7 linked regions of the Homo sapiens genome follow. The protein of the gene in region 1 interacts with the protein of each later gene in a biochemical or structural test. Each region holds a gene or a part of one and is shown on either strand. Other genes may lie near its edges.

Evidence for each region.
Region 2: of the proteins of SNCA (region 1) and CTSD, one has a biochemical effect on the other in vitro, tested with the Homo sapiens proteins (one study listed by BioGRID).
Region 3: the proteins of SNCA (region 1) and TPPP form a complex in vitro, tested with the Homo sapiens proteins (one study listed by BioGRID and IntAct).
Region 4: the proteins of SNCA (region 1) and ENSA form a complex in vitro, tested with the Homo sapiens proteins (2 studies listed by BioGRID, with this or other methods).
Region 5: the proteins of SNCA (region 1) and DMTN form a complex in vitro, tested with the Homo sapiens proteins (one study listed by BioGRID).
Region 6: the proteins of SNCA (region 1) and RAB3A form a complex in vitro, tested with the Homo sapiens proteins (one study listed by BioGRID).
Region 7: the proteins of SNCA (region 1) and CACYBP form a complex in vitro, tested with the Homo sapiens proteins (one study listed by BioGRID).

What each region holds. Positions count from the first base shown.
Region 1 is NC_000004.12:89,729,162-89,732,661, forward strand, and holds part of SNCA (alpha-synuclein), read right to left. Parts: intron 117-3,500; coding exon 33-116; intron 1-32. UniProt on the Homo sapiens protein: Neuronal protein that plays several roles in synaptic activity such as regulation of synaptic vesicle trafficking and subsequent neurotransmitter release.
Region 2 is NC_000011.10:1,757,428-1,760,927, reverse strand, and holds part of CTSD (cathepsin D preproprotein), read left to right. Parts: exon of another isoform or gene 1-580; intron 581-1,288; coding exon 1,289-1,412; intron 1,413-1,840; coding exon 1,841-1,959; intron 1,960-3,371; coding exon 3,372-3,500. UniProt on the Homo sapiens protein: Acid protease active in intracellular protein breakdown. Plays a role in APP processing following cleavage and activation by ADAM30 which leads to APP degradation.
Region 3 is NC_000005.10:676,353-679,852, reverse strand, and holds part of TPPP (tubulin polymerization-promoting protein), read left to right. Parts: exon of another isoform or gene 1-344; coding exon of another isoform or gene 345-541; intron 542-1,788; coding exon of another isoform or gene 1,789-1,792; coding exon 1,793-2,103; intron 2,104-3,236; exon of another isoform or gene 3,237-3,500.
Region 4 is NC_000001.11:150,624,119-150,626,612, reverse strand, and holds part of ENSA (alpha-endosulfine), read left to right. Parts: intron 1-86; coding exon of another isoform or gene 87-134; intron 135-804; coding exon 805-971; coding exon of another isoform or gene 972-975; exon of another isoform or gene 976-2,494. UniProt on the Homo sapiens protein: Protein phosphatase inhibitor that specifically inhibits protein phosphatase 2A (PP2A) during mitosis.
Region 5 is NC_000008.11:22,070,314-22,073,813, forward strand, and holds part of DMTN (dematin), read left to right. Parts: coding exon 1-21; intron 22-2,012; coding exon 2,013-2,137; intron 2,138-3,416; coding exon 3,417-3,500. UniProt on the Homo sapiens protein: Membrane-cytoskeleton-associated protein with F-actin-binding activity that induces F-actin bundles formation and stabilization. Its F-actin-bundling activity is reversibly regulated upon its phosphorylation by the cAMP-dependent protein kinase A (PKA).
Region 6 is NC_000019.10:18,196,284-18,198,663, forward strand, and holds the end of RAB3A (ras-related protein Rab-3A), read right to left. Parts: intron 1,378-2,380; coding exon 1,187-1,377; 3' UTR 501-1,186; downstream 1-500. UniProt on the Homo sapiens protein: The small GTPases Rab are key regulators of intracellular membrane trafficking, from the formation of transport vesicles to their fusion with membranes.
Region 7 is NC_000001.11:175,002,947-175,006,446, forward strand, and holds part of CACYBP (calcyclin-binding protein), read left to right. Parts: intron 1-1,667; coding exon 1,668-1,887; intron 1,888-3,500. UniProt on the Homo sapiens protein: May be involved in calcium-dependent ubiquitination and subsequent proteasomal degradation of target proteins. Probably serves as a molecular bridge in ubiquitin E3 complexes. Participates in the ubiquitin-mediated degradation of beta-catenin (CTNNB1).

The sequences.
Region 1 (3,500 bases):
TCTTGTTAGAAAGATTCAGCTTGGACTCCTACCTCAGAAGGCATTTCATAAGCCTCATTGTCAGGATCCACAGGCATATCTTCCAGAATTCCTTCCTGTGGGGCTCCTTCTTCATTCTAATATTTAAAGTAAGAAGCACAAAAAGAACATGATGAAGTAGCATTTTTCACTTTTAAAAATCAGAACCATGTTTTGGAAAAATCTTACATATAGGGATGTTGGCCACGGATCTTGAAAATGGCACACCTTAATATTACTACTGGCATTCTAAACTCCACAATGCCTCCGGGGAAACATTGCGGCAACATGGGTTATCAACCCTCAAAGTATGTAAACTTTTTGCTCAAGTAATTTACTATTTAGGAAATAATCCACAGCTATAGTCCAAAGATATTTTTCACAAGATCAATGACAGCAGGAAACAAAATTTTTAGAATTGTTAACTAAATGTTCAATGAATAATGAAGAGTTAAAAAATTATTGCTGGGTGCAGTGGTTCACTCCTGTGATTTCAGCACTTTGGGAGGCTGAGGCAGGTGGATCATTTGAGTCCAGGAGTTCAAGACCAGCCTGGGCTGTTACAATGAAACCCCATCTCTACTAAAAATACAAATAAATAGCTGGGCATGGTGGCACATGCCTACAGTCCCAGCCACTTGGGAGGCTGAGGCAGGAGGATCACTTGAGCCTGGGAGGTAGAGGCTACAGTGAGCCATGTGCATGCCACTGCATTCTAGCCTGGGTGACAGAGGGAGACCTTGTCTTAAAAAAAATTATCATTCAACTACTCAGTAGATTATGATAAAGACCTGTATTACTATTACCTGAGAATTATGTAACAACTACCTATTTATGGTATAATATTTAGCAGGCTATAAAGTGTTGTCTATATTATAGATACAACCTACACAGAATTCAGACGCAAAGGTAAAAAGTTTGGAAGAAAACACAATAAAATATGAAAGTTATTTTGTTGGATAGTATGTATGTTATTTTGACTTTTTTTCTAAGTGTTTAACTTTTATAACCACTTATAATGTAAAAGCATACATATTTAACACATTAATTTTAAATGACAATGAAGAAACAAATTCTTTTCTGAAATTTGAAGACTGAGACTATACATATTGAAGGAAAATAATCAAATACATGGTCAGAAAATTTTTCTAGGTATCTCTTCCTAGACAAAGAATACTACAAAACTCAGCCTGAAATGGTCATGGCTTTGTTGGTATTCTTCACTAAATACCTTTTGTTGCTTTGCATTTATTTCAGCAAAGTAATTATAAGAAGATAAAGGTAAGTGAAAATTCAAAGAACAGAGAGGCAATGTGAGCCTAAAGGGACTTGGAGAAAGAGATCAAATAATCCCTCAGCCAACGCGGCTGATTTTCAACAACATGTCTGATGTAAAAAAGCTTCCCCATGTCTTCACATGGAAGTGACTGACAGGGACGCAGAAGTATAAGAAAATGGCTAACAGTAAGAAAAGGTCACACTAAAGATCATGCTTATGGTAGGTGGGCAGAGAAGCTTACAGATCATTCTGCCCTTGCCAATGCCCTTTTTATAAACTAAAAAAAATCCAAATAATATATAAATTAAATAAAATATGAACCACCCCAAACTACCTCACTTTAAAATGTGGAGTAAACATACTGTTTTCGTAGTGTTTCACTTCTTGGTAGATACGCCTCTGCTGCAGGATGGCTAGGCACAAGGCCTTCCATGTCACAGGACTTGAGCTCAAGTCCTAGCTTCTCTAGATGACAGAGCTTTTGTGATGCTGAGAAGTTTCCTATGCTTTTTCTGAGTGTCAATTAGTCTTAGTGATCAAACGGGACAGCAAAACCTTCTTTACAACAGGGAGAAGGAAACGACATCATTAACTTTCTCATTAATATTTAGATTACTGTTAGGATATCCAAGTATAAGGGAAATAAGGCAAATTTTTTTCCATGATTTTGAAACTGACAGAGATTTGATTTTCTAATATAATTTGTTAGAAAATTTTGATATGGACCAGACAAGTAAATATGGCAGACCTACCCTGTTTGTTGTTTGATGATCAAAAAGGAGTTGTTATGACGGAACTAAGACTGATGGATATTACTGGATTTGTTTATATGTTATTTGGCTGAACTTTGAAGGATGTACACAGATGTGTAGGTTAGGTGAGTGTGTGTGTCTGCATGGTTCCAGCCTGGGTGAGTGGGTGTGTACAAGAGCACCCTGCAGTAATGGAACAGCGTCCTGTCCGGGGTGGGTTCCCATATTGCTCCCTGAGCTGCCAGGATAGGCTCCAACCACCTGCGGCCTCCACCGAAATAATTAGGTAAGTTATTTGACTTGTTTGTATTAATCTTTCTTAAACGTATATATAGCTCACATTAATTTCAATGTTTAATGTCAGAAGTGATTTATCTTTATTTAGGAGTTTGATGGTGTTTTTGTGTCCAGAAATTTGCCATAGGACTTAATTCTTGCTTATATCAATTAGCCAATGGTAAAACTGGTTTTGTTATATGTTGTTTTGCTTCAAGTCACAGTTTCCAGAAACTATTGATGAAGTTAAGTGAGGATTTACTGTATTATGTGCCCTCTGATGGAAGTACATACACATCACCATCTTAAACTAAGACTGTACTAGTTTAAGTGGGCTATTGTTCACTGATCCAATAACTTCATCAAGTGGGAACAAGCTACACTAGGGATGACAGCACAATCCTATTCTAGAGTCCAAATCGACAATAGGGTTTACGACCTCGATGTTGGATCAGGTCATCCTAATGGTGTAACTGCTATTAAAGGTTCGTTTGTTCGACAATTGAAGTCCTACATGATCGGTGAGGTCAGGAGATCTATAGCATCCTGGCCAACATGGTGAAACCCCATCTCTACTAAAATACAAAAAGTTAGCCGGGCGTGGTGGTTCTCCTATAGTCCCAGCTACTCGGGAGACTGAGCCAGGGGAATCACTTGAACCCGGGAGGTGGAGATTGCAGTGAGCCCAGATCACACCATTGCACTCCAGCCTGGTGACGGAGTGAGACTCCGTCTCAAAATAAATAAATAAATATATAAATAGAAAAAGAAAACAAAAAAAGAAAAGCCCTACGTGATCCGAATTTGAATTTGATTAACATTTAACTATCACTGACAACTTACAGCAAATATAAGGTGGTGAAAAACATGTTCATTGCTTACAACAGTGGCTACAATCAGCAAATTTTGCACTGTGAGAAACTACACAAGACAAAGAATACGTCTAATTTCAATAAGTAAATTGCAACTAAAAAGAAGTTAGTGGGAACCTGCCGCTTAAAGTAGAAGTGAGAGAGCATTAGCCAATTGCAACCTAAGAACTTTATTTCATTCTCATTGGGAACCCTACATAAGCAAATGGAAAACACATATGAGGTAGTTGGGGAAATTTGAACACTGACTTGATATTTAAGAATTATTGTTTATTTCTTTAGGTGTGATGATATATTGCAGTT
Region 2 (3,500 bases), on another chromosome or scaffold:
TCCTCTCGCAACAGCCCCTCCTGTGCCCACTACTCCTTCAGGGGGAAGCAGGATCCAAGGTGGAGCACTCTGGAAGCCACCTAGCAAGCTGGGGCTTGGTCAGCCTGGTCCCAGCTCTATGGGGTCAGTTCGAGGCCAGGGCCTACTGTCCAGCCTCGGGGCTCTGGCCCACTGTGGGGGAGCCTTGCCCTCTGTCCTGCTTGGCCCGAGTCCTGGCTGTGACAGGAAGCCCAAGACTCACAGGCATGTGACTGGGCCAGGGGGGCCCTGGGGGGAACCAGGCGCCGTGTGCCTGGTCCCGACTGGCCAGTTCCTGATTGTCCTAGCGCGCGAGCAAGCAGATGCACGCATGCGCACACATGCACACACACACATGGAAATTTGCTGAGTGTCCCCCTGCCAGTGGTCACTTCTGTGGGGCCATGAGTCAGCAGCTGCTGCTGCTCCGTGAAGCCAGGCGGTTGGAGAAACATTGGGCTGGGCTGGTGCCAGGAATCTGGTGGCTGACGGTGGCCCAGGCTCCAATCCTGGGGGAAGCGGGCGCCCAGGCGACCCCAAACTCCAGGACCCTCTTACTCTCTGCCTCCTGAGAGGCTCGGCGGCATGGGACCCCTTGTACTTGCCTGATCCCTGAGTCAGCACCCCCACCTGCGCCTGCTATCCCTGTGTACACACGGGGAAACTGAGGCCCTGGGCCATTAAGGCAGGGTTGCTGGGCAGGCAGTGATTGTAAGGCTTACCTTCTCCCCTTGACCAGCTGAACCCCTCTGCCTGGAAGCCCTCCAAGCCTGGGGTTCACCCTGGAGGGCAGGGCAGGCACTGAGACACCCAGAATCAGACCTTGACATGGCCCCAACCTGGGGAGGAAGTCACTTCCTTTCTCAGACCTTGGACTGCGGGCCACCAGGGGAGTCTTCCAGGCCGGGCTTTCCTGCACCCGGGGCTCAGGCTGAGGGCCACGTCTGTCCCCACCCTGGCTTGACCTCTGGCCTTGTCTTTTCCGTGGGGAAGTCCTCAGCCTCACCATGTATTGAGCAGGGGTAGGTGACAGAAGCCAGGGGTCTAGAGACCCCAAGTACCCGTGGGCATTAGGACCGAGGGCTGGGGACCTGGCCCATCTTCCCTGCAGGCTGAGCAGGTGGGAGTGGGTGGCTGTTGGCAGCTGTGGGCCCCGTGATGCCCCTCCCTCCAGTATGGGCCTTGGCTCTGGGGACAGCCGGGCCTTCTGAGGCCCAGTGGGGAGATGGGGCCCCCTCTCCCATCCCTGACGGACCCTGTCCCCTGCCAGGCCCAGTACTACGGGGAGATTGGCATCGGGACGCCCCCCCAGTGCTTCACAGTCGTCTTCGACACGGGCTCCTCCAACCTGTGGGTCCCCTCCATCCACTGCAAACTGCTGGACATCGCTTGCTGTGAGTCACGAACCCTGGCCCCGTCGCCCAGGTCCTGCCCTTCCGGGATGTCGCTGCAGGGCTGCCTCAGGAATCACTTGGGCAACGCAATTCTCCTGCCTCTTGGCCCCGTGAGCCAGGCCAGCCCTCCACCCTGCTCCAGCCACTGACTTTCTGGGTGAACCACCAGCTGTGGTCTTGCTCTCAGCAGGGCTGGGGCTGGGGTGGCCACAGAGGGAGCCGGCTGTGGCTGGGAGGGAGGCCCGGGGTCACAGCCCACAGTCCCGGGGCTCTGGCATGATGGTGGGCCTCAGATCCCCTCCAAATCCCACCCTGGGGAGGCAGCTTGGGGGGTGCGGGCTCCATGGTAGATTGTAGGGGGATGGGAGGGCTAAGGCCGTGGCGTGGGCTGCGGGATGACCGGCGGGCCCCCTTGTCGCCCGGGGCAGGGATCCACCACAAGTACAACAGCGACAAGTCCAGCACCTACGTGAAGAATGGTACCTCGTTTGACATCCACTATGGCTCGGGCAGCCTCTCCGGGTACCTGAGCCAGGACACTGTGTCGGTGAGTCCCTCTGGGGCCTTTCCCAGGACTCGAGGGTGCCAGGGTGTGGGGTTCACCCACCGTGGGTATGTGGTTGAAAGGGAGGGCTCGGTGATCCCAGCCCAACCCCAGCCCTCAGGTGGCCGGGGCAGTCAGCAGGGTGAGGAGGGGTCTGGGAATGGGCCTGGTTGTGTGCAGGCTGGAGGGACAGCCTCAAACCCAGGGGGTACAGGGGCAGGGGTCCCCGGAGTCAGGCCACAATGAGTGGGAGGGAGGACAGGGCAGATCGATCGGGCTCTTTTTGGCACATTGGGTTTGAGGTGCCAGCAGGTGTTGAGGGCTGGACCTGGGGCTGCACAGGGTCCCTGCAGCAGGCCGAGGGCTTGGGGAGGCTTGGGGTTGGGAGGATGTACCAGGAACCCGCTGTGGGGGCTGCTGGCGGAGAGTCACCGGCAGGAGCCTGGGAGGGCAAGGGAGGGGGAGCAGCAGTGGCTGTTGGGGGCCCCGCCTGCATCCACCATCCTCAGGGCCCTGTGCAGAGCAACTCCCTGCCCTAGGAGAGGGTGAGCTGGCCCTTGTCACCCTGCCTGGGCCTCAGTGAGTTCTCACCTCGGAGCTGTCTGCTGGGGGTGGACCAGGCCACAAGGGGTTCAGGAGTTACGGGATGGTGACACAGCCCCCAGCTCTGGAGCGGGCCAGGAGGGCAGCAGAGCCCCCCTGCAGGCCCAGGGACCCGGGAAGAGGGCCCCTTCCTCCAGCTGAAGCTGCTCCTAACAGTTCCCTGCTGGGCTGGAGTCCAGTCTGTACTGGGGGCTCCTCAGAGCCCTCCTGTCTGGACCCTGCTCAGCCTGAACAGGAAATTGCCCCGTCTGCCCTCTTCCGCCCTCTTCTGCCCCCTCCGCCCCGTGTCAGCCTCAAGCTGTCGTTCCCTTCCCACATCCTGCTCTGGCCGTGTTCTCTCTCTGCAGCCTCATCCAGGGCTGGGGGAGGGGACAGGCAGAGAAGGGGAAGGGGGCAGTATGGCTGTGAGCTTGGGATGGGGTCGGCAGGTTCCCCATCTCTCGGGCTCCTGGCCCAGGCTGTGTCTTGTTCCCAGCGCTGAGGGCAGGAGCAGGACCTGCCTGTCATTGGTGGTGGGAGTAAGAGGTCGGAGCAGGGAGCGGAGCAAGGGGCCTGCCCGTCTGTGCTCCTGCCTGGTTCCCATCTCGTGTAAACCGAGCCCTGATGACTTCCACGAAGAGGGCCCCGCCATACCCCGTGTCCCCATCCCCAGCGGTGTTCAGCTCAGGGTTTCCAGCCCTTTCTTCTGGGCCCTCTGGGCCCCATCGTGTGTGGGATGGGCATCCATTGAACTGGGTTTTGTAGCCTCATGCTCAGGGAGTGGTGTAGGGCTCAGCCTGTCTGCTGCCCACTGACTCTGCCCTGGCCTGCAGGTGCCCTGCCAGTCAGCGTCGTCAGCCTCTGCCCTGGGCGGTGTCAAAGTGGAGAGGCAGGTCTTTGGGGAGGCCACCAAGCAGCCAGGCATCACCTTCATCGCAGCCAAGTTCGATGGCATCCTGGGC
Region 3 (3,500 bases), on another chromosome or scaffold:
GAGCCCTGAAGGTGGCTCTGAGGGGCTTCCCTCATCCCTTTGCTCCCAGGCGGGCCCCACGGGGTGCAGGTTCTCAGATGACTCTCTGAGGTGTGTGAATAAGGGTCTCTGTTCAGGCGCGTCCCCACAGGAGATGAGACCACAGAACGCAGCCCTGAGTTTGAAGCATCCCAGAAGGTTCTTTCTCTCTGACCCGCACACCCACCACTGTTCTGGGTGCTCACAAAACCCACCATTGCTTCTGGTAATTTCTCAGCTGCTCCTCCTGTCCAGCGACCCCTGCTGCAGAGGCCCAGGGGAAACACAGACCAGGCCTGTGAGAAGCTCCTGTTTCAGACAAAGAAATGGTGTCAGCGATAAAACTGGAAACTGTTCCCAGCTCGACACCTGACCTGGCCCTTCCACCCCCAGGATCCTGCCCCCAGGCGGCCCTTCCACCCCCAGGATCCTGCCCCCACGCGGCCCAGCCCCCACCAGGATCCTGCCCCTGCATCCTCCGCTGGGTTGGCATCTGCATTTTTGGTGCCTTCCAGGGAAAGGGGTGAGTGGGTGGGGCCTGAGGCCCTTAAGGTCCTCAGTGGAGGGAGTGCCCCTGGATTTTTTTCTGGCTGTTTTGGGGGAATTTGTGGGATCTCAGGGTCAGCAGCGGCCACACTCAGGACCCCACGATTACAGAGCCACACTTTGGCCATGACTGGCGCTGAGAACTCCAGATCTGAGAGGGCTTCGTGAGTCCCAGGGTTGGGACACCTACCTGTGTCCTCGGCACGGACCCTCCCACCGGCTCTTGTGTCTGTGGGCAGAGGCCATGTTCAGCTCTCAGTGCAGTGCTGACGGCCCACCTGGTGTCCAGGCCCCTTTGGGAAGCAGCTTTCATGCCCTGAGTCCAGCACCTCAGCCTTGAGTCCTTCAGGGCCTGACTGGGTCTTACCGAAGCCCATGCATGGTAGGGAGGTGGCCTCGGCAGCCCTGCCCTGTGGCGTAGCCCTGCGTCCCCAAGCCCTGCCTGGGTGGCACCCCTCAGTCTTCTCAACCCCATGGCCCAGCCGCCTACTCTGGGGGCGGGCGCCTTGCAAAGTCCAGAGGGCGTCCCTGCGCCCTGACACCGGTGCCCCCACCACTGCCTCAGCCCTGCACACTGGCAGTCCCCTCCCCTGGCCGGGGCCAGGCCCAGGGCTCCTGGGAAGAGCATCCTGAGGCGCCCCCAGGGCCACCACGCACCCTCCCCAGCCTAAAGCTCCATCTAAGGTCAGAGGCTCTGCAGTGGGGAGGGAGCGGCTGTCGCACGACTGCTGTGGACCCTCCCAGAGGAAGGCAGCACGTCACAGACCCTGGGGAGTGCGTGATCCCGAGGTGTCCTCCAGAGCTGCAGAGCGGGCGTCCACAGGAGGGACAGTGGAACTGCGGCGGGGAGGGGACCCGGAATAGGCTCTGATGCTGCCAGTCACACACTGAGCCTCCTAGGCCTGGAGCCCCTGGCACCCAGCTCAGCTCCCACCCTGGGCTCTGCGTGCTGCTGGCTTTATTTGGCTTAGGGGGTCCTTGGCCCAATGATGGCAGTGGGCAAGGCCTCGCTTGGCTCCACTCTGCCCGGGGCTGGACATGCGTGCCTGCGGGGCAGCTGGCTCCAAGGGTCTGAGGGGCCTCACGCCCAGCCCCAGGAGGGCCTGCCCATCTCAGCCCTCGCCACGTCCTGGTGCTCATTGGTACGGCGGGGTTTCCTGGGCTGCACCCGGCTCAGCTGGGACATGGCCCGGGTGACACCTTTCTCCTCTCCTTCCTCCATAGCAACATGGCTGACAAGGCCAAGCCTGCCAAAGCTGCCAACAGGACGCCCCCCAAGTCCCCGGGGGACCCCTCGAAGGACCGGGCAGCCAAGAGGCTGTCGCTGGAATCGGAGGGTGCTGGTGAGGGGGCAGCCGCATCCCCTGAGCTCAGTGCCCTGGAGGAGGCCTTCCGGCGCTTTGCCGTGCACGGGGACGCCAGGGCCACCGGGAGGGAGATGCACGGCAAGAACTGGTCGAAGCTGTGCAAGGACTGCCAGGTGATCGACGGCAGGAACGTGACCGTCACTGACGTGGACATCGTCTTCAGCAAGATCAAGTGAGTGCGCTGGGCTCACGGGCCGAGGGACCTGACTTACGGGGGTCTGCGGCCCTGAGCCCCTGGGTGGGTTCTGTGGGGAGCGGGCCATGGGGAGTGGAGGGGGTTGTGCTTCAAGACCCCGCCCTTCTCAGAAGCAGCCCTGACATGGGAGCCTGAACGTGCCATCTGGGCCCCCAGGGAGCAGGGGTCCGGGCATTGCCGGACTTCTCGGTGCCGAGGCCTGAGTGGCAGCCCTGGCTCCTCTCAGCCCCGTGGGTGTGTAGGGTTTCGGCATGGGAGGTGGCCTATGAGGGGATGTCTGGCCTCAGAGCAGACTCGGGGTGAATGCTGCTCCCCGGAGTCAGGGAGCTGTGACTGGGATCACTGGGCTTCCCCAGGAGTGGGGGCAGTGGCTGCCTGGAGCCTGGAGGGGCAGGTGGCTGCTGGCGGGCAGAGCTCCTGACCCTCTGTGGGCTGGCTCAGCGGCTGAGTCTCAGAGGTTGGATGCTTGTGTCCCCATGCATGGAGCTGGCCATTCGGGTGTCCCCCAGCCCCTCCCAAAGCCTTTGTGCTGCTGTATTTCTGCCCCAGGATTCCCACGGGCGGCAAAATGGCAAAGGGCACCAAGGAGGCGGCTCCGGCCACCACCTTGAAACCGCATCGTGCCGTTTGCTTTTTCTGCGTCGTGTGCACGTGTGCGCGTTTCTGTGTGCACGTGTGTGCGTTTCCGCGTCGTGTGTGCACGTGTGCGCGTTTCTGCGTGTGCACGTGTGCGCGTTTCTGCGTCGTGTGTGCGTTTCTGTGTGCACGTGTGCGCGTTTCTGCGTCGTGTGCGCGCGTGCGTTTCTGCGTCGTGTATGCGCGCGTGCGCGTTTCTGCGTCGTGTGTGCATGTTTCTGCGTCGTGTGTGCGCGTTTCTGTGTCGTGTGTGCACGTGTGCGCATGTGTGCATGTGTTTCTGCATGTGCACGTGCGTTTCTGTGTCATGTGTGCACACGTCTGTTGCCGTGTCACGCATTGTCTGTTTTCTCCTGGATGAATGCTGGGAAGCACACTGAGGCACCCTCACACGCCCCAGCACATTTCACCTCATGTCCCGACACCCCACCATGATCGCACCCGAGAAAAGCAGCGGTTCTCCCTGAGCCCCGTCCTGTCCGCCTGTGTGGCAATGGCTTTATTTCGGTGGTTTGCACCTGCGTCCTCCTGTGGCCGATGTATTTCATTCCTACATTGCCGCAAACTCATCACCTCTTTCATCTCAGAGCTCCTGCACCTTCCCCCTCTGCGGCCTTGGCTTTGCAAGGGGCCGGGCCGTGGGTCAGATGCCCCTGTGTGGAAGGCTGTGGGGCCCACCTCTGCGGCGCCAGCGCCCCATCTACCAGCTCTGGGTGGGCGCCGTGACCTTTGCAGCT
Region 4 (2,494 bases), on another chromosome or scaffold:
TGCACTCCAGCCTGGGCAACATAGCGAGGCTCCATCTCAAAAAAAAATTTTTTTATTTTCCTTACTCTCCTCTGCAATGACTGTAGGATTATAAATCATTACATTGGAGTGTGCTTCTCTGTGCGGATGAAATGGTGGGTGAAACATCCCTGTGGAGGATCCCAGTTATTGAGTCTTAGTCACAGATGATAATGTGATGCTGATTTGCATTTACCTTGCTGGAGGCAAGGCAGGCGTGGGCAGGCTGTCACAGTCATGGAACATGTGTGGGAGCTGTGAGAGTCAGAAGGAAAATACATTATCCTCATGAACAGGCCCAGTTTCTATTCCTGGTCTGGGAGAATAATCATTTTGAGGTTGTTGGCTTGTGGTTGATCTCCTGGTGGCTAGGATAGCCCCATATTTATCCTTCTCTATATCTTATTCATTTCTGTTTCTCCAGTTCCAGGCTATTGCCCTGTACCCAGTAAGGTCCTCAGTTACCCTTTATGAATAAGTGATTTTGGTGGAACGATCCTCTACTGAGTGGAGTACAAAGGATGGCAGGGGCTATCCCTTGACTCCAAAACTATATACTCTAGCTGGGAAATTGCTTATGTACCTGAAAAAGTCAGAACACACTGGGGAGAAGACATAAGTACATGTAATTAATGTTAAACTGTGTATGCATGAGGTTAATCAAGGAAGACTTCTTGAAAGATCCGAGTGTGCATGAGGGTTTATAATGGATGTGAGATGTGAGTCTCCTTGTTTTTGAGGAAGGCCAGAGTCCTCACTCACCTAAACCTCCCTCTTATCTCTTAGCAAAAGTACTTTGACTCAGGAGACTACAACATGGCCAAAGCCAAGATGAAGAATAAGCAGCTGCCAAGTGCAGGACCAGACAAGAACCTGGTGACTGGTGATCACATCCCCACCCCACAGGATCTGCCCCAGAGAAAGTCCTCGCTCGTCACCAGCAAGCTTGCGGGGTAACCTGAGCCCCCCTCTCCTCCCCTTCCTCAACCACTGGACGTTTATATATTATAGGCAGGGATGAAATGGGCACCTAGTCAGATCTTCTCAGCTTGCTAGCCAGAAATGACTGTGATTCTGCTGGGGGCTGCTGAGAAGGTAATGTAGGTTGAAAAGGGGCTCTAAGTTTATTTATTTCGTTAGATTGACACTTCCACACACTCCCTGTAGTCCAGGTAGGGCCCAGAAATAGGAAAGGCTAGGATTGGATAATGCTGCAAATGCTTTTTTTGTGTGAGAAACTGGAGAGATGTGATTTCTCCTTTTGGGAGAGAATGTCCCAAAATTGATTAGGCTGAGCCTTGGGAATAGTTTGGCAGGTTTAACATCCCAAGGCTAACCTAACGTAGTTGGGAAAGGTAGATTGAATGAGACATGTTTTCTGTGCTTCTAAGTGTTCTGTCCCTTAGGCTGCTATTGCTTCATGTTTCCATTATGGCAGGTTTAGAGAATCCTTAAAAAGAAAAATTGACTTGCTTGCCTAAAACTACAGTGCCCCCTTAGCCTCCATTACTTAGTATCTCTTACAGTTTGCTCTGGCTCTCAAATAATATAAAGATTGATGAACATTATTCACAGAAAATGGGCACCTTCTCTCTCTCTTCCAGCATGTTGCTTTTGAAAGTATCATGGGATAGTGGGACGAGCACTGGTTTAGGAGTCAAGATATCTGGGTTCTCACTCTACTCAGTCCCAGCAGAGCTGTTGTATAACCTTGATTAAGTCATTTAGCCTCTCTGGATTTCTATTTCCTCATCTGTAAAATAGAGTTAAATGTATGTAAGATTGATTCTGATTCTGAAGTCTTAACTGCCAGCAGAAAAACTCCATACTGTTCATTGTAAAACTAAAAGTGAGGAAGGCTCGTGGGTGGTGAACCTCTGCTCTGTAATACTGGGAAAGTACTACAGAGGGGAACCATTTGAGGGATACATGAGGAGAGAGTAAATTGAGGTTTGGGGATTATAAATTCAGGCAAGAGAACCTTATAGATATCACAGTCTTGAGGGTCAAAAAAAAATACTTAGGAAGCTAGCCATGGAAGCTTCTTGCCTCTGACCCAGCCCACTTTCCCAGCCTACCTCTGGGCCTTAGCTGCTAAAAAGCTTCTCTGGCAGCGGAGCTGCAGGCCTGAGGAAACATGCTCAGTCATGCACATGTGTTGACCCATGTTTCAGATGCAGTCTGATGCCAGGTATATTGTTAGGGAAAGAGGAAGAAGGGTAAACTGAGCTAGCCCCTGGGGCTGAGTACTCCTGCAGGGCTGGAGGAACAGGTTCTTAGAAGATGATTCACCTTGGAGGAAGCTGGGGAAAGTGGTTAGGGAGGGAGAGGAGGAAGACTGAGAAATCTCTGCATCCCCAGAACTCAGCAACCCAGCTCTTTTATCATGAGGAGAGGTAGCCATGCTGACTCATGAACAGGTGGAGGAAAGGGGTTGCAGGTGACCAGCATCTTCAATCTAGTTACCACCAGCTTG
Region 5 (3,500 bases), on another chromosome or scaffold:
CCCCGTCTCTGGCTGTTGTGGGTAGGAGAGATGGGGAGAGTGGAATGGGTGGTCTGGGAAACTCCTGCACTCCCTCCCCTTGGCTCTTGCTGCAGTCCGTGAACCCACTCCCACCCCTGCCCTATGGTGTCCTCGTGGGCTTTTTCCTACCTTCAGGAGCCCCCAGGCTCCTTGCTCACTCACTCTCTGTGTTCCCATAGCGCTTGGTGTAAGTGGCCCTTTTATTGGTCATTCATTTGCTTTCCATTCATTTATTTCCTGACTCAACAGACATGTATCAAACTTCTGCATCCCAGGCTCTGTGAGGGGAGCACTGGGAAAGAGAAAGATAAATGATAGATGGTTTGGTCCCCAGCGAATTTTATTTTAATTTTTATTTTTATCCATTTATGGGGTACAGGTGTAATTGGTTACCTGCATAGATTGCACAGTGGTGAAGTCAGGGTTTTTATGATATTGTTATCTGAATACTGCACGTTGTATCCATTAAGCAATTTCCCATCACCACCCCCCACACCCTTCTGAGTTGCCATGGTCCATCATCCCACTCTCTACATCCATGCGTACACACTATTAAGCTCCCACTCATGAGTGAGAACATGCAGTCTTTGTCTTTCTGTGTCTTGTTTGACTTAAGACAATGGCCTCCAGTTCCATTCATGTTGCTGCACCCACTGAATTTCAGTCATGAGTGTGTGTATGTGTGTGTTGCCTACCCAGCTTCATGGCAAGGTGAGAAAATGTTACTCTTATTTTATTGTATTTTTATTTTATTTATTTATTTATTTATTTATTTATTTGAGATGGAGTCTCACTCTGTTGCCCCAGGCTGTAGTGCAGTGGCACAATCTTAGCTCACCACAACCGCCACATCCCGAGTTCAAGCATTTCTCCTGCCTCAGCCTCCTGAGTAGCTGGGATTACAGGCATGCACCACCACACCTGGCTAATTTTTTGTATTTTTAGTAGATATGGGTTTTCATTATGTTGGCCAGGCTGATCTCAAACTCCTGACCTCCAGTGATCCACCCGCCTGTCTCCCAAACTGCTGGGATTACAGGCGTGAGCCACCATGCCTGACTCTCTTTTTAAATGTTGAGACAGGAAGTCTTGCTCTATTGCCCAGGCTGGAGTGCAGTGGCGAGATCTCGGCTCACTGCAACTTCTACCACCTGAGTTCAAGCGATTTTCCTGTTTCAGCCTCGCAAGTAGCTAGGATTACAGGTGCCCACCACCACACCTGGCTAATTTTTATATTTATATTTATATTTATTTATTTATTTGGAGACAGAGTCTCGCTCTGTCACCCAGGCTGGAGTGCAGAGGCCTAATCTTGGTTCACTGCAAGCTCCGCCTCCCGGGCTCACGCTATTCTCCTGCCTCAGCCTCCTGAGTAGCTGGGACTACAGGCGCCCGCCACCACGCCCAGCTAATTTTTTTGTATTTTTAATAGAGATGGGGTTTCACCATGTTCGCCAGGATTGTCTCGATCTCCTGACCTCGTGATCCGCCTGCCTTGGCCTCCCAAAGTGCTGGGATTACAGGCGTGAGTCCCCGCGCCCGGCCTATTTTTATTTTTAAATATTTATTTGTTTATTAAGACAGGATCTCACTCTGTTGCCCAGGATGGAGTGCAGTGACTCCATCACAGTTCACTGTAGCCTCGAATTACTGGGCTCAAGCAATCCACCTAGTTCAGTGTCCCCAGCAGCTGGGACTACAGGCATGCCCTACCACCCCGGGCTAATTTTTTAAAATAATTTTCTATAGAGACTATATTACCCCAGGCTGTTCTCAAATTCCTGGGCTCAAGCGATCCTCCCACCTCAGCCTCCCAATGTGTTGAGATTACAGGCATGAGTCATCTACCGACCCTACTTTATTTTTTAAAAAAATTTTGTAGTGGCCTTATCAAGGTCCAGCCCAGAGCAGTGCACAGAGGCTGTGCCATGTAAACACACACTGACCCCATGGCGAGTGACTCCCTCCCCACCTTTGCTTGTGTCTCCTAGAGACAGAATGGAGGAAGCGGAAGGCGTCTCGGAGGGGAGCAGAGGAAGAGGAGGAGGAGGAAGATGACGACTCTGGAGAGGAGATGAAGGCTCTCAGGGAGCGTCAGAGAGAGGAACTCAGTAAGGTAGCATCTCACCACCCCCACCCTCCACCCCTGTGCAGGAGTCTCGCTCTGTTGCCCAGGCTGGCATGCAGTGGCATGATCTCAGATCACTGCAACCTCCGCTCCCAGGTTCAAGTGATTCTCCTGCCTCAACCTCTTGCATAGCTGGGATTACAGGCACGCCACCACCTCGCCCAGCTAATTTTTTTTTTTTTTTGTATTTTTAATAGAGATAAGGTTTTGCCGTGTTGGCCAGGCTGGTCTCGAACTCCTGACCTCAAGCGATCCGCCCACCTCGGCCTCCCAAAGTGCTTGAATTACAGGCGTGAGCCACTATGCCCAGCCCACCCTGTGTGTCTTTCTGGGGACAGAAGTTCTGGCTCTGTAGCTAGTCGAAGGGGTTCCTACCCGAAAAGCATGCTTTTTGGAACATGTTGGGGAGCCGCTTCTTGCCAAGACCCCAGGATTTTGCTTTTGAAGGGACACCTGGACTTTATGCTGCTTTCTGGGGGACACTACTTGATATAAGGGTCAAAAGCACAGAAAAGGGTGGTCCCATCAGAGCTGGGAGCTAGCAGCCTGAGTGATCCATGGGAGGAGAGAAAAGGAGAGCATGGGCTACAGGCCTCCAGGGGAGGAGGGAGAACCATGGAAAGACCATTGACAGTGACATGGGCCTAGGCTCTGAGCAGGGTGACCTGGGACAAGGACAGGGAGGCCGCCGTGGTAGAGTTCTACCAAGCAGCGCTGACTCCTGGCTTTCAAGGGTGGCCAAACCCATTGTGGCCATGTGTCAGCCACGAACAAGAGGCTCTGTGAGCTCCAGGGCACAAACCAGCCACTTGGGAAATGTCCGCAGTCCTGCCTGCAGCATGGCCCAACTCTAGACCTTTTAGAGATAAGAAATGAGTATTGGCCCAGCACAGTGGCTCACACCTGTAATCCCAACACTTAGGGAGGCCGAGGCAGGAGGATCACTTGAGCCCAGGATTTTGAGACAAGGCTAGGCAACATGGTGAAACCCCATCTGTATATAAAAAAAAAACAATTAGCTAGCTGGGTGTGGTGGTGCATGCCTGTGGTCCCAGCTCCTCAGGAGGCTGAGGAGGTTGGATTGCTTGAGCCCAGGAGGTCAAGGTTGCAGTGAGCCATGTTTGTGCCACTGAACTCCAGCCTGGGTGACAGAGTGAGACCCTGTCTCAAAAAAAAAAAAAAAAAAAAAAGAAAGAAAAAAAAAAAGAGAAAAAAGAAACATTCAAGTGTCTAAGTCTTGGCTCCATCTTCCTTTCTCCCTCCTCAGGTTACTTCCAACTTGGGAAAGATGATCTTGAAAGAAGAGATGGAAAAGTCATTGCCGATCCGAAGGAAAACCCGCTCTCTGCCT
Region 6 (2,380 bases), on another chromosome or scaffold:
GCAGGAACCTCATGCGACCTGTGACCAAGATGTCCCATCCTCAGCACAGGGCCCACTCTGCCAACCAGTCTCAAGCACCAGCCCCTCAACACTGCCATCCACCTGGCTCTGGGCCAAGCCACCAATCCAGAGCTCCCTCAGGTCCTGGGACTAAGGCGGGGACATGACTGATCCCCTCAGAGCAGGCTCAGGCCTGGAGTCGGCCCCCAAAAGTTTCACATAGGGCCAGGCAGCCTCTGTGTTTCTTTCCCTGGTCCTGAACTGTGGAAATGCCATTAAACTCTCTCTATAATGTAACTGAAACTGCTGGCTGGGCGCAGTGGCTCCCACCTGTAATCTCAGCCCTTCCCGAGGCTGAGGTGGAAGGATTGCTCGAGGCCAGGTGTTCGAGACCAGCCTGGGCAACATAGCAAGACCCTGTCTCTATTTATATTGAAAAATAAAAATAACAAAAGAAAATGCTGTGGATGATCAAAACCAGGGTGGGCAGGACCCGGTGCTCACAGGGACACACATGGATGGTCCATTCGCTTTATTGGGTGCGTGTAGTGTTGTCATGACATCTCCTAAGGAACTGGGGGGCACGTTTGACACTCATGAGGTCAGAACAGGTCTGGTGGGCGGGGGGGGGGGGGGTCCCAGGGTGGTGAATACCCACAGCACACCCCCCCACCAAAAGAGAAAACGGGGAGAGGAGCCTGGCAGGCCAGACTCTGATCCCCATGGTCCACACAGGGAAACCCCCAACAGCGGCCTCGGCCCACCGCGGCAGAGCCGAGGGGCTGGCAGGCCTGGCCACCTCCCATTGCCCGATCAGCCTGCTTTAGGGTGTCATCTGGCCCCTCTTCACAACTGACAACTGTGGATGGGGGTGAATTTTAAAAAAAGGCGGGGGGGGGGGGTTCAGGAGGGTGAGCGGTGAGTTCACGGGGCCACGAGACACCACAGCTGAGTGGGGAAAGGGCTATATGTACAGGAGGGGCAGGGCTTGGGGCGGGCAGGGGAGCCTGGGCCCCTGGGGGACATCTTCAATAAATAAATAAATAGCTACAATAATAAATAAGGGTGACGGGCTAAGTCAGGAGCAGGGGTCTTGTGCCCGTGGCTGGTAGGGGCCGGGTCAGGCCCGGGTAGTTGGGGGAAGGTGGGGAAGACAGGGAAGAGGGGAAAGGGAGTGGGATGGCTCTCAGCAGGCGCAGTCCTGGTGCGGTGGCACCTGCTGGTCACTGAGCTGTGGGCCCTGCTTGGCGCCTGTGACCGCAGGGTCCGCCGTGTCCAACGACTCGGACATCTTCTCGCAGATGACATCCACCAGGCGCTCAAAGGTCTGCTTGACGTTAATGTTGTCCTTGGCGCTTGCCTCAAAGAACTCGAACCCTGTGGTCAGAGAAGGCAGGGATGAGGACCCTGGCCACGCCCTATGCCAACTCCCAGAGATGCTTCTCTGAGGAAAGGGAACACCTGGAGATTCCCAGTGCCAAGCAACTTATTGAAGGTACTGACAAATCCCACAGAGAAGAAACTTATTGAAGGTACTGACAAATCCCACAGAGAAGCAACATGGAACTGGGTCAGCTTTGCATTTCCTGCTTTTTTTTTTTTTTTTTTTTTTTGAGACAGGGCCTTGCTCTGCTGCCCAGGATGGAGTATGGTGGCGTGATCATAGCTCACTGCAGTCTCGACCTCCTGGGCTCAAGTGATCCTCCACCCCCACCTCTCAAATTGCTGGGATTATAGGTGTGAGCCAGCGCACCTGGCCTCCTGCCCTTCCTTCCTAAAATTGTGTCTCGTTGTCCTTAGGGACCTGGCAAGACATGCCCTGCAGCGTCCAGCCCAGCCCCGTGCACTGGCCCTGGAAGGCTCTGACACTCAAATCCAGCTGTGACCTCCCCCTGCTCACACACCCTCTGTGACTCCCTATTGCCCTCCAAAGAGTCCCAGCCTCTCAGCACATGGTTGAGGCCCTCTGTGATCGGCCACATTTCCTCCAGCTGACCCTCATGTTCCAGTCTTGTGAAATTATTACCAAAACACACAGGACCTTTCTCACTGCAAGCCTTTGCCCAAGCTATTTCCTCTGCCTGAAAGACCCTTCTTCACTACCCACCACTCCAGGAAGCCTGGCTCCTCTCATGTGCTCCTCCCATCCAGGTCCCTCCCTCTACCTCAGGGGTCCCTCGAGGCACCCCTAGATGCCTCTTGAGCCCAGCAACACCCAACAAAGCGTTGGACGGTGAGTGTCAGAATAAATCCTTAAACTTTCTGCATGGCAAACTCCTACACATCCCTCAGGATCCAACTCAAATGGCTCCTGGATGAAGGCTAGTTTGCAGAAAGTGTGAATTACCTGGCTTTAGCTGTAAGACCTTGGGTGTGTGCC
Region 7 (3,500 bases), on another chromosome or scaffold:
AGGAGTTGTAGAATCAGCGTTTTTTTGAAACCATTACAATAAAAATATTACTTTGAACTGAAACATTTTGGTTCTATGCTCAAAAGATGAGTTTGCAAGATTTTTTGTCATAGTAATATGAGCTGTTCTTGGAAGGGTCGAGAGTGTGGACAAGAGGGTTGGGCAGAGTTGATTTTTTTTTTTTTTTGGGAGACCGAGTTTTGCTCTTGTTGCCCGGGCTGGAGTGCAATGGCGCGATCTCGGGTCACTGCAACCTTTGCCTCCCGGGTTCAAGCGATTCTTCTGCCTCAGCTTCCCGAGTAGCTGGGATTACAGGCACGTGCCACCACACCCGGCAAATTTTTGAATTTTAAGTAGAGACGGGCTTTCGCCGTGTTGGTCATGTTGGTCTCGAACCCCTAACCTCAAGTGATCCACCCGCTTTGGCCTCCCAAAGTACTGGGATTACAGGTGTGAGCCACTGCACCTGGCCAGAGTTGAACTTTTTATACCATGTCATCTGTTATAGATAGGCAAAACTAGGGCATCTGAGTTAAATGAGATAACAAAAGACTTGTAGTAAAAGAAAAGAATTAGTTCTGTTATTGCATTTTATAAGACTATTAAGAAACAGGCTTTCAAACTCTGTTGTGCGTCTGATATTCTGAGTTATAAAGCACTAAAAGACTTTTTTAAATTGAGCTTTTGATATCAAGCTGTGACACAAGATTTTTTTGGTCAAGTTGGTAGTGTCAAGCCAGAGTGTAAAGTTATTGTAAGAAAAGTGAAACAGCTGTTTGGAAAGATCTTGTGTATTTGCAGTATGTCAGAGGGTAATTGGGGGAAAAAAAACTTAGGCTCAATAATTTTCTAACATTGTCTTTAACTCTTGAATTTCATAAAATGTTGCCTCTATCTCTAGAAAGTAGAAAGTAGTAGACTTTAATAGATGATGGATTGGCAAGAGAAGAAAATGAGAACGTGGTGGCTTTTTCAAAAGATAATTTCCAAGAGTATGTTGCATTTTCGGTCTTTTGTCACCTTCTGTGCAACCAACTCCTACACTTCTGAGTGTAAGACTGACCCAGCTTCAGAGCAAGACTTTTCCTCAAAAGCAGAAATTTTTTTTTTTATCTTTTGTCTTAAAAATTAAGACTTTTTTTATGTGAGGTATTTGAGGTGGGAAGATAATGAAGACCAATCAGTGACAGAAAGTGGAGCATTCATTACCTCAGTTAAGTTTGCTATAAAAGCATTTTACCATGGTCACTGCATGTTCTCTCATCTCTTAAATATTTTAAAAGTGTCTAACATCTAATGACACTCGGATTAGATGTTACAAGGAAATCTATGAATCCTTTGTCAAAAAAAAGTTCTTTGTTTTACTTTTTAGGTCGCAGACGTTTCTTGTAAATATTTTAAAACATAAACTGGAAAATTTAGGTTTGAAGACCTATTTATTGTTTGTTCAAGATTGTTCAAAGTTTTCCTTTTGAAAAAAAGGAAGCTTGAGTTAATTACAGTTAATAAGCCAGATGGAAGAATTGAAGTTGCAACTCAATCCTAGAAAATTTAGATGAACTTCTTAATTCTTAGTGCTTATTTCAGTAAGTTGAAATGAGTGATACGCACAATATCAAGCCATTTCCTTATTTATCATAGCTAACTTATTTTTTGTCTTAACACAGCTACAGAAAGATCTAGAAGAGGTAAAGGTGTTGCTGGAAAAGGCTACTAGGAAAAGAGTACGTGATGCCCTTACAGCTGAAAAATCCAAGATTGAGACAGAAATCAAGAACAAGATGCAACAGAAATCACAGAAGAAAGCAGAACTTCTTGATAATGAAAAACCAGCTGCTGTGGTTGCTCCCATTACAACGGGCTATACGGTGAAAATCAGTAATTATGGTATGACTTGCTTCCCTATAGCCAGTTCTGCCTCCGAGCAACCTATTCCTCATAGTGGTCTAACAAATTCATCCCCAATGAGTTTTGAGTCTGTGTTTTTGGTGGTTTGGAGCAAGACCCATCAGTTTTTATTTAATAAAACTTTTTTAAGATATAAATAGGAAAGGATGCGTTCTAGAAGCTGTTAACAAGAGTAAGGTGATTCACTACAAAATGTAACAACAAGGAAGGAACTTATTCTGAAATTGTTCAGTATAAGACACAGCTTTGGTGGTGGTGGTGGTGGTGGTGGTTTTTAATCATGTTTTATGTTTCACTCTGCCAACCACCACAATTAACTGAGGAGAGGAATCCAGTTAAATTCAGGAAATATTTTTGAGCACCTAATGTGTATCACTATTGTGCTTTGACTTACGGATACACAACAGTGACTAAGACCCAGTCCTTGCTCATGTTGTGGTTGGGACATTGACGTATAACTCGTAGTATAACAATGTAGTAATACTGTTTTCCTTCAATGGTGTATACAGTTTTTTGTTTTGGCGGCAGCGCAACTTGAATATGAATGATGAGCTCTCATTGGAGCAAGGACAGTCTTGTTTTTCTTTGTGCTAATAATGTCTAGCACATAATAGGTAACATAGCTGAAGAAATAATTCTGGAGGTGAGGAACAGGGAGAATTAGAGAGATTTGAGTGTGAAGGGTGAGTCGTACATTCAGCAAGTCAAAAAGGAGGGGAACAGCATGAGCAGAGAATGTGAATAGAGAGTTGGAAGGCATGATCTATTTTGAATATTGTTAATAGTGAAAAGCATGTGTATGTCGTGCTTAAGAGATGTACTATATAGTAATATAGGAAATTGCACCGTGTACTCAGTTGAGTATAGGAAACTGGTCTGAAGGTGTTGAGGATTATGGTATTTTAACCAGGAACATAGATTTGTGTTGAGGGAGAAACTTGTCAATCCGGAGGATGGACTGACTGAATGGGAAGAAACTATTAATAAATGAAGTTCTCTGGACCCCACTAGGGCATTTTTTCATCAACACTGTTTCTTTTTAATTTTCGAGGGTACATAGTAGGTGTATATATTTATGGGGTACATGAGATGTTTGATATAGGCATGCAATGTGAAAAACGTCATGGAGGATGGGGCATGTTTCTATTCTATAGGACTAAGTGAGCAATAGTCAGGGATATGTATGTATATATTCTTGATAAACAGAAGATGCTTTTTTGTGAAGTTTTTTATTTTCTACAAATGTGATGGTATTTTGTGAAGTATTTATATATATGTCTTTTATGTTGACAGAGTTCTTCTAGGTCAGAGACGTGCTGGTAGTTTGATAATACATACTGAAATGGCATTTAACAGATACCAGTAGGTTTGTCAGATTTGGATGAAGAATTGGAGTCTTTTACATTCTACTTTGCCCTGGAAAGGAATTAAGAGAGCTAGGATTCCATTTGTTTGACTACTTACAGAAGTAGAAATGGTTATGGAATTAGTATTGATACTTAGCCATCCAGCTTAGTGGAGAACTACCAATATTTAGATGTCGGACAAAATTGTTTCCATAAAAGCTGTAAATGAACTAATCTTAAAGAATG